Linked DNA regions of Homo sapiens: region 1 is linked to region 2. A link means that fine-mapping ties the variant in region 2 to the expression of a gene that starts in the linked region. Tissue or cell type: whole blood. Region 2 holds a variant in brackets; the other region holds the start of a gene. All regions are shown on one strand. Distances are between the middles of the regions.

Region 1 (2,617 bases), 28 kb after region 2:
AGGAAGTCATAGTTTCTGACTTTCTTCCCAACTTTGCCTAAGGCAAACTTCTTTCAACAGGAGCTCCCATGAGGGTTGGGGAGGAGGTGGTGGGGAGGAAGGAGGGTGAAACCCAAGACTTTCTCTCCTGAGAAAATCTGATACTCAACTCATCAATTGGGGGAAGATTTATACTAGGAGGCAGAAGTATTGCTGACTTTACAGACAGCTTCTTGGCAGAGTTACTTTCAACAGCGGGCACCCCCCCCACCCTACCGGGAATACCCCCACCCTTCCTACACAGCGCTACATCTTGCTGAACGAACCCTAGTAGTAGGCTGCCTGCCAGCCTGCAGCCCCAACAAAAAATGGCAAAAACACAAACTGACGGCACGTGAAACATCAATGGACTCTCCTCCCCGCACAGGGCCACCCAGGCCCCACCACGGGCGGCATGTCCCTAACTCAATTTGGCTTGTGAGGGGTCACAGCCACGCTGGAAACATCTGCACCCAATAGAAGGCGATTTCCCCGGCTGGGGGCCCACCAGCCTGCCCCGGGTCTTTACCCTTCGTGGGGACTTGGACCGGCAGGGCCTGCACTTCCCACGTCCCGGGGTGACGGGAAGGGCGTCCTGCACCCCAACAAGGTCCTGGAGTTGTCTGGGAGATCAGACCGAGGGGAAGGGACGGCGATTTTTTCAAGCCCAGGCGAGGCGGTGGGGTGGAGCGGAGGAAGGAGGCAGGCCCACCGGGACTGGGGGGAGGCGGCCTAGGGCCCCGGGGGGCAGGAAACACCCCAAGCGGTGACAGGGAGCGTCCCGGCGGAGGCGAGTTCGGGAATTGGGAGAGACTCCGGGGCCAGGACGCACAGACAGGAAGCGACGCGGGAGCAGGCCGGGGAGGTGGGGCGGTCGGGAGGAGTCTGGGAGCGGGACTGGGAAGAGCGAGGGGAAGCGGGGCGCGGCCGGGGAGGCAGAGGAAGGGGCGCCGCGGCCCGGGGGTCCCTGCCCGAGGGGGCCCGCGCCCGCCCGCCCTCCTGCGGGCCGCGCCCGGCTCCGCGCCCGCCCAGCCCGGCCTAGGCCCGCGACTCCCGGCGGCCCGGCCCGGCCCTGCCGGCCTCACCGCCCCCACGGCTTCCTGCAGCAGCGCCCCGAGCCGGCTCAGCATGATGGCGCCCGGCCCCCGGCTCCCGGGCGAAAGCGGCGGCGGCAGCGCTCTAGGCGGAGGAGGCAGCCCCGTGGCCCCGGCGGCCCCGGCGCGACGAGGGGGGCGGGGCCCGGCCGCTCCGCCCCTTCCCGGCCCGGCTGCGTGGCGCTGGCTAACCCCGGCTGGGGGCGCCCAGTCGGGCTGGGAACCGCCAGCGGTGGGCCCTGAGAGTTGGCTGGGAGGTGTTTTTTTTTTTTTTTTTTTTCTTTCCTTTCTTCCGAGACAGGGTCTCGCTTGGTCGCCCAGGCTGGAGTGTAGTGGCGCGATCTCTGCTCATTGCAGCCTCCAACTCCTGGACTCATGCGATCCTCCAACCCCGGCCTCCAGAGTAGCTGGGTCCACAGGCGCGCGCCACCACGCCTGGCCAATTGTTTTTTTTTTTTGTTTTTTTACTGGGAGGGGAGGTCTCACTGTGCTGCCTAGGATGATCTCCAGCTCCTGGCCTCAAGCGACCCTCCCGCCAGGGCCTCCTGAGTAGCTGGGATTAAGGCGGGAGCTAAGGGAGGTGTTTTCGAAGAGAAATTACAATTCCTCCTGAATTGAAGTCTCAGTCAGCCCCAGGCACATGGGCTGATGAGCTCCTGAAATGTGCTGGTCCCAACCAAGATGTGCCGTGCCAAGCACACCCCGATTTGGAAGATACAGTAAGAAAGGAAAGTGTGAAACTGCAACAACCATGGCTTATATTGATTACATATTGAAATGACTATTAGGTGTGTTGGGTTAAATAACGTATATTGTTAAAATTAACTTCACGTGTTGCTTTTTACTTTTTTGACAGGGCTATCAGAAAATGTTTATGGGCTGTGGGCGGTGGCTCACACCTGTAATCCCAGCACTTTGGGAGGCCAAGGCGGTTTGATCACTTGAGGCCAGGAGTTTGAGACCAGCCTGGCCAACATGGTGAAAACCCGTCTCTACTAAAAATACAAAAAAATTAGCCAAGCGTGGTGGTATGTGGAGGCTAAGGTGGGAGAATCACTTGAACCCGAGAGGCAGAGGTTGCAGTGAGCCAAGATCGTGCCAGTGCACTCCAGCCCGGGCAACAGAGTGAGACCGTCTCAAAAAAAAAAAAAAAAAAAAAAAAGTCTGCAGCTGAGTGTGGTGGCTCAAGCCTGAAATCCTAGCACTTTAGGAGGCCAAGGCTGTTGACCAGCCTGGGCAACATATGAAGATCCTGTCTTGACAAAAAATAAAAATACAAAATAACCAGGTGTGGTGGTATGTGCCTGTAGTCCAAGCTGCTCGGGAGACTGAGGTGGGAGGAGGATCACTTGAACCCAGGAGTTCGAGGCTGCAATGAGCTATGATCGTGCCCCTGCAGTCCAGACTGGGTGACAGCAAAATAGTGTCTCTCTAAGAAACAAAAACCAGTGTCTCTGCTTATCACTGACATCATATTGTGTCCGGAATTGGTAGGTTCATTGGTC
Region 2 (2,749 bases):
CCCATGAGGCAGGCACTGCTCCTTTCCCATTGGCAGATGAGAACACCGAAGCTCAGTGGCAGGGCTGGGATCTGAGCTTCTGTCTGTCATGGCCCCAGGTCACTACTCTATGCTCTTCCTGGAGGCAGGCAGCCTCCTCTGCCTTCTGAGACTCCGTCCGGCTGCCCACCTTTTGGTATTTGCATCTTGTTAGGGGAGACTGCCTGGAGGAGATGCTCCCGGAGGGGCTAGCAAGGAAGGGGGCTGAGGGAAGTGGAGGGAGAGATGGGTCAGGTGAGGAGCCAGGGAAGGGGAAGGTGATGGGGTGGGCTGGAGGCAAGAAGCTTGAGGCGCAGGGGAGGAGAGAGTCCAGGGGTAAGGCGAGGGCAGCCCCGTGGTTCCCAAGTCCAGCTGAGCCCTCATTATCCTGGGGAAAAGACTTCCACCTAGTGTCACCCCTCGCCAAGGCACACACACACACGGAGACGTGCAGAGGCCAGCATGGTGTGCACCCCTCCTGCCCACAGGTACACACATGTGTAGATACACACACAGATGCTGGGACACGCAGAGGGGAGCAGACAAGCACACCTCCACACACAGATGGCCTCTTCTGGGCTGGGTGTGGCTGGCCGTGGGCAGTCACTACGGCCCAACCCAGTGACTCACGGGGCAGGGCTGAGGGGCACAGTCTCCCTGGGTGGCCTGGGAAACACTGCTCAGCTCCAGGATGGAGCTGAATCTCCAAGGGCAAAGGAATCTTGGCACCCAGCTGGGACTCCCCTAGGGTCCAATTTGCTTCACCAGCCTTCCCTTCCCCCACGCCCCATCTTGCAGCCCTAAGCCCAGGGGCAATGGCTGAGGTCCTTGCCAAAGGGGGTGGATTGGGCTGGTGGTGGGTTGGAGCACGATGCTGGCGTCCCCTTTGCACATGTTCCCTGGGCACCTCTGTCCTCTGCGAGTCCCTGCCTGCCCAGAGAGCTCCCTGCTCTGGTTAGGCTTGTGAGGTCCCCGTAGCTGTGGCTGCTGCAGAGGCCTCAGCCTGGCCGGAAAGCCTGTTCACCTGCTGGCACTCAGAGCCTCGCAGTGGTCCTTCCCTTTTCTGCATCCGGAATCTTAGGGAGACCCTGATGAACACTTTGAGTTGTCTCCCCAGGGACA[C/T]ACAGCTCTCTCCTCATCCACCACTTAGCACACAATTCTGGCCATTCCAAAGACTTCAGATGAAGAAGTCCTGGTAGACAGTTTATGAACTGGGATTATGCAGGACGTCTCCCTCGGATTTGCAGAAAGGGGTACCATTGAGAGAGGGAGGAGAGGGGCCGAGGTCACAGAGGCTGTTAAAGGCCTCCAGCCCCAGAAAAGCAGGGATTCAGTCTGCCCAACTGTAGGGCCTTGAATCCCTTCCTTCTAAGCTCCTTCCAGCCAAATGTGTGTTCTGCCAACCTGAGCTGCCCCAGCCCCAAACAAACTCAGCCATGCCCTCCCTGCCTGCCCTTCAAGACTTGACCCTTCGGCTCTTTTCTCCACCCCTGGCCTCTGGAAAGTCCATGCCCCATCCTCCTGCAGCCCTGCCCTTCCCTCCCCATCTCGCTCATTCCCCCTTCTCTTCTTTGAGGTGTGCCCGGCCGGGGCAGGCGCCCTGGAGCCTGGCGCCCCAGGCAGCTGCTACCTGGATGCAGGGCTGCGGCGGCGCCTGCGGGAGGAGTGGGGCGTGAGCTGCTGGACCCTGCTCCAGGCCCCCGGAGAGGCCGTGCTGGTGCCTGCAGGGGCTCCCCACCAGGTGCTTCCCAGCGGGCAGGGGCTCTGCGGGGAGATCAGGATGGCAGAAGCGACCCAATCAAGGCCGCAGGCATCCAACATCCCCTCAATACCCAAGAGCCGGGCAGGGCAGGGAGCCGCACGCTGCTGTGGGGAAGAGATAACGGGGGAGCCAAGAGGCCTTGAAGTCACTGAGCCCAACTGGGACTGGCGCCAGAGTCCACTCCTGGTCTCCTGGGCATGCTGATGTCAGGGGGCTCGCAGGGAGACTTTAGGGTCTCTCCAGCAGTTCTGAGTCCCGGTTTTGGCCACAGGCTTTGAGGTGTCCAGTGGTGCATCCAGGAATCTGCTCTCTGAGAGCCAGGGGTCGGGGGTGGTTGTCATTAGAGGAAGCGAACCTCAGGGACCAGGGGGACAGGGAGAGGATGTGTGATCTTGAGCCTCACTGTCCATGTCCCCCCGACACAGGTGCAGGGCCTGGTGAGCACAGTCAGCGTCACTCAGCACTTCCTCTCCCCTGAGACCTCTGCCCTCTCTGCTCAGCTCTGCCACCAGGGACCCAGCCTTCCCCCTGACTGCCACCTGCTTTATGCCCAGGTGAGTGGGATGTGGGCCAGCAGGCTGGGTGTGCTACCCAAGCCTCCCACCTCCCTGTGCCACAGCTGCAGTGGACATAGCAGATCCCACCCTGTGCCAAGCAGGCAGCCACCCTGTGCAGGGGCAGAGTATTCCTTTTGTTTAGTTTGTTTCATTTTGTTTTTTGAGATGGAGTCTTGTTCTGTCACCTAGGCTGGAGTGCAGTGGCACTATCTCAGCTCCCTGCAACCTCCGCCTCCTGGGTTCAAGTGATTCTCCTGCCTCAGCCTCCCAAGTAGCTGGGACTACAGGCGCCCACCACCATGCCTGGTTAAATTTTTTTGGGATTTTTAGTAGACGTGGGGTTTCACCATGTTGGCCAGACCGGTCTTGAACTCCTGACCTCAAATGATCCACCTACCTTGGCCTCCCAAAG

Evidence for each region. PIP is the estimated chance that this variant, and not a neighbour inherited with it, causes the effect.
Region 1: it holds the start of FHIP2B, and the variant in region 2 is fine-mapped to the expression of FHIP2B in whole blood (TOPMed, PIP 0.98).

What each region holds. Positions count from the first base shown.
Region 1 is chr8:22,087,785-22,090,401 of GRCh38, reverse strand. FHIP2B (FHF complex subunit HOOK interacting protein 2B) reads right to left here and starts at 1,252. Exons shown (of 17, transcript NM_022749.7): 1 at 1,104-1,252. The coding sequence starts at 1,148. RefSeq lists an enhancer at 373-512 and silencers at 733-832, 1,023-1,082, 1,143-1,362.
Region 2 is chr8:22,115,885-22,118,633 of GRCh38, reverse strand. HR (HR lysine demethylase and nuclear receptor corepressor) reads left to right here. Exons shown (of 19, transcript NM_005144.5): 17 at 1,595-1,759; 18 at 2,206-2,334. Among named protein-coding and RNA genes, the nearest start is that of NUDT18, 7.8 kb to the right of the region's middle. The variant C/T (reference allele first, on the strand shown) is at 1,141.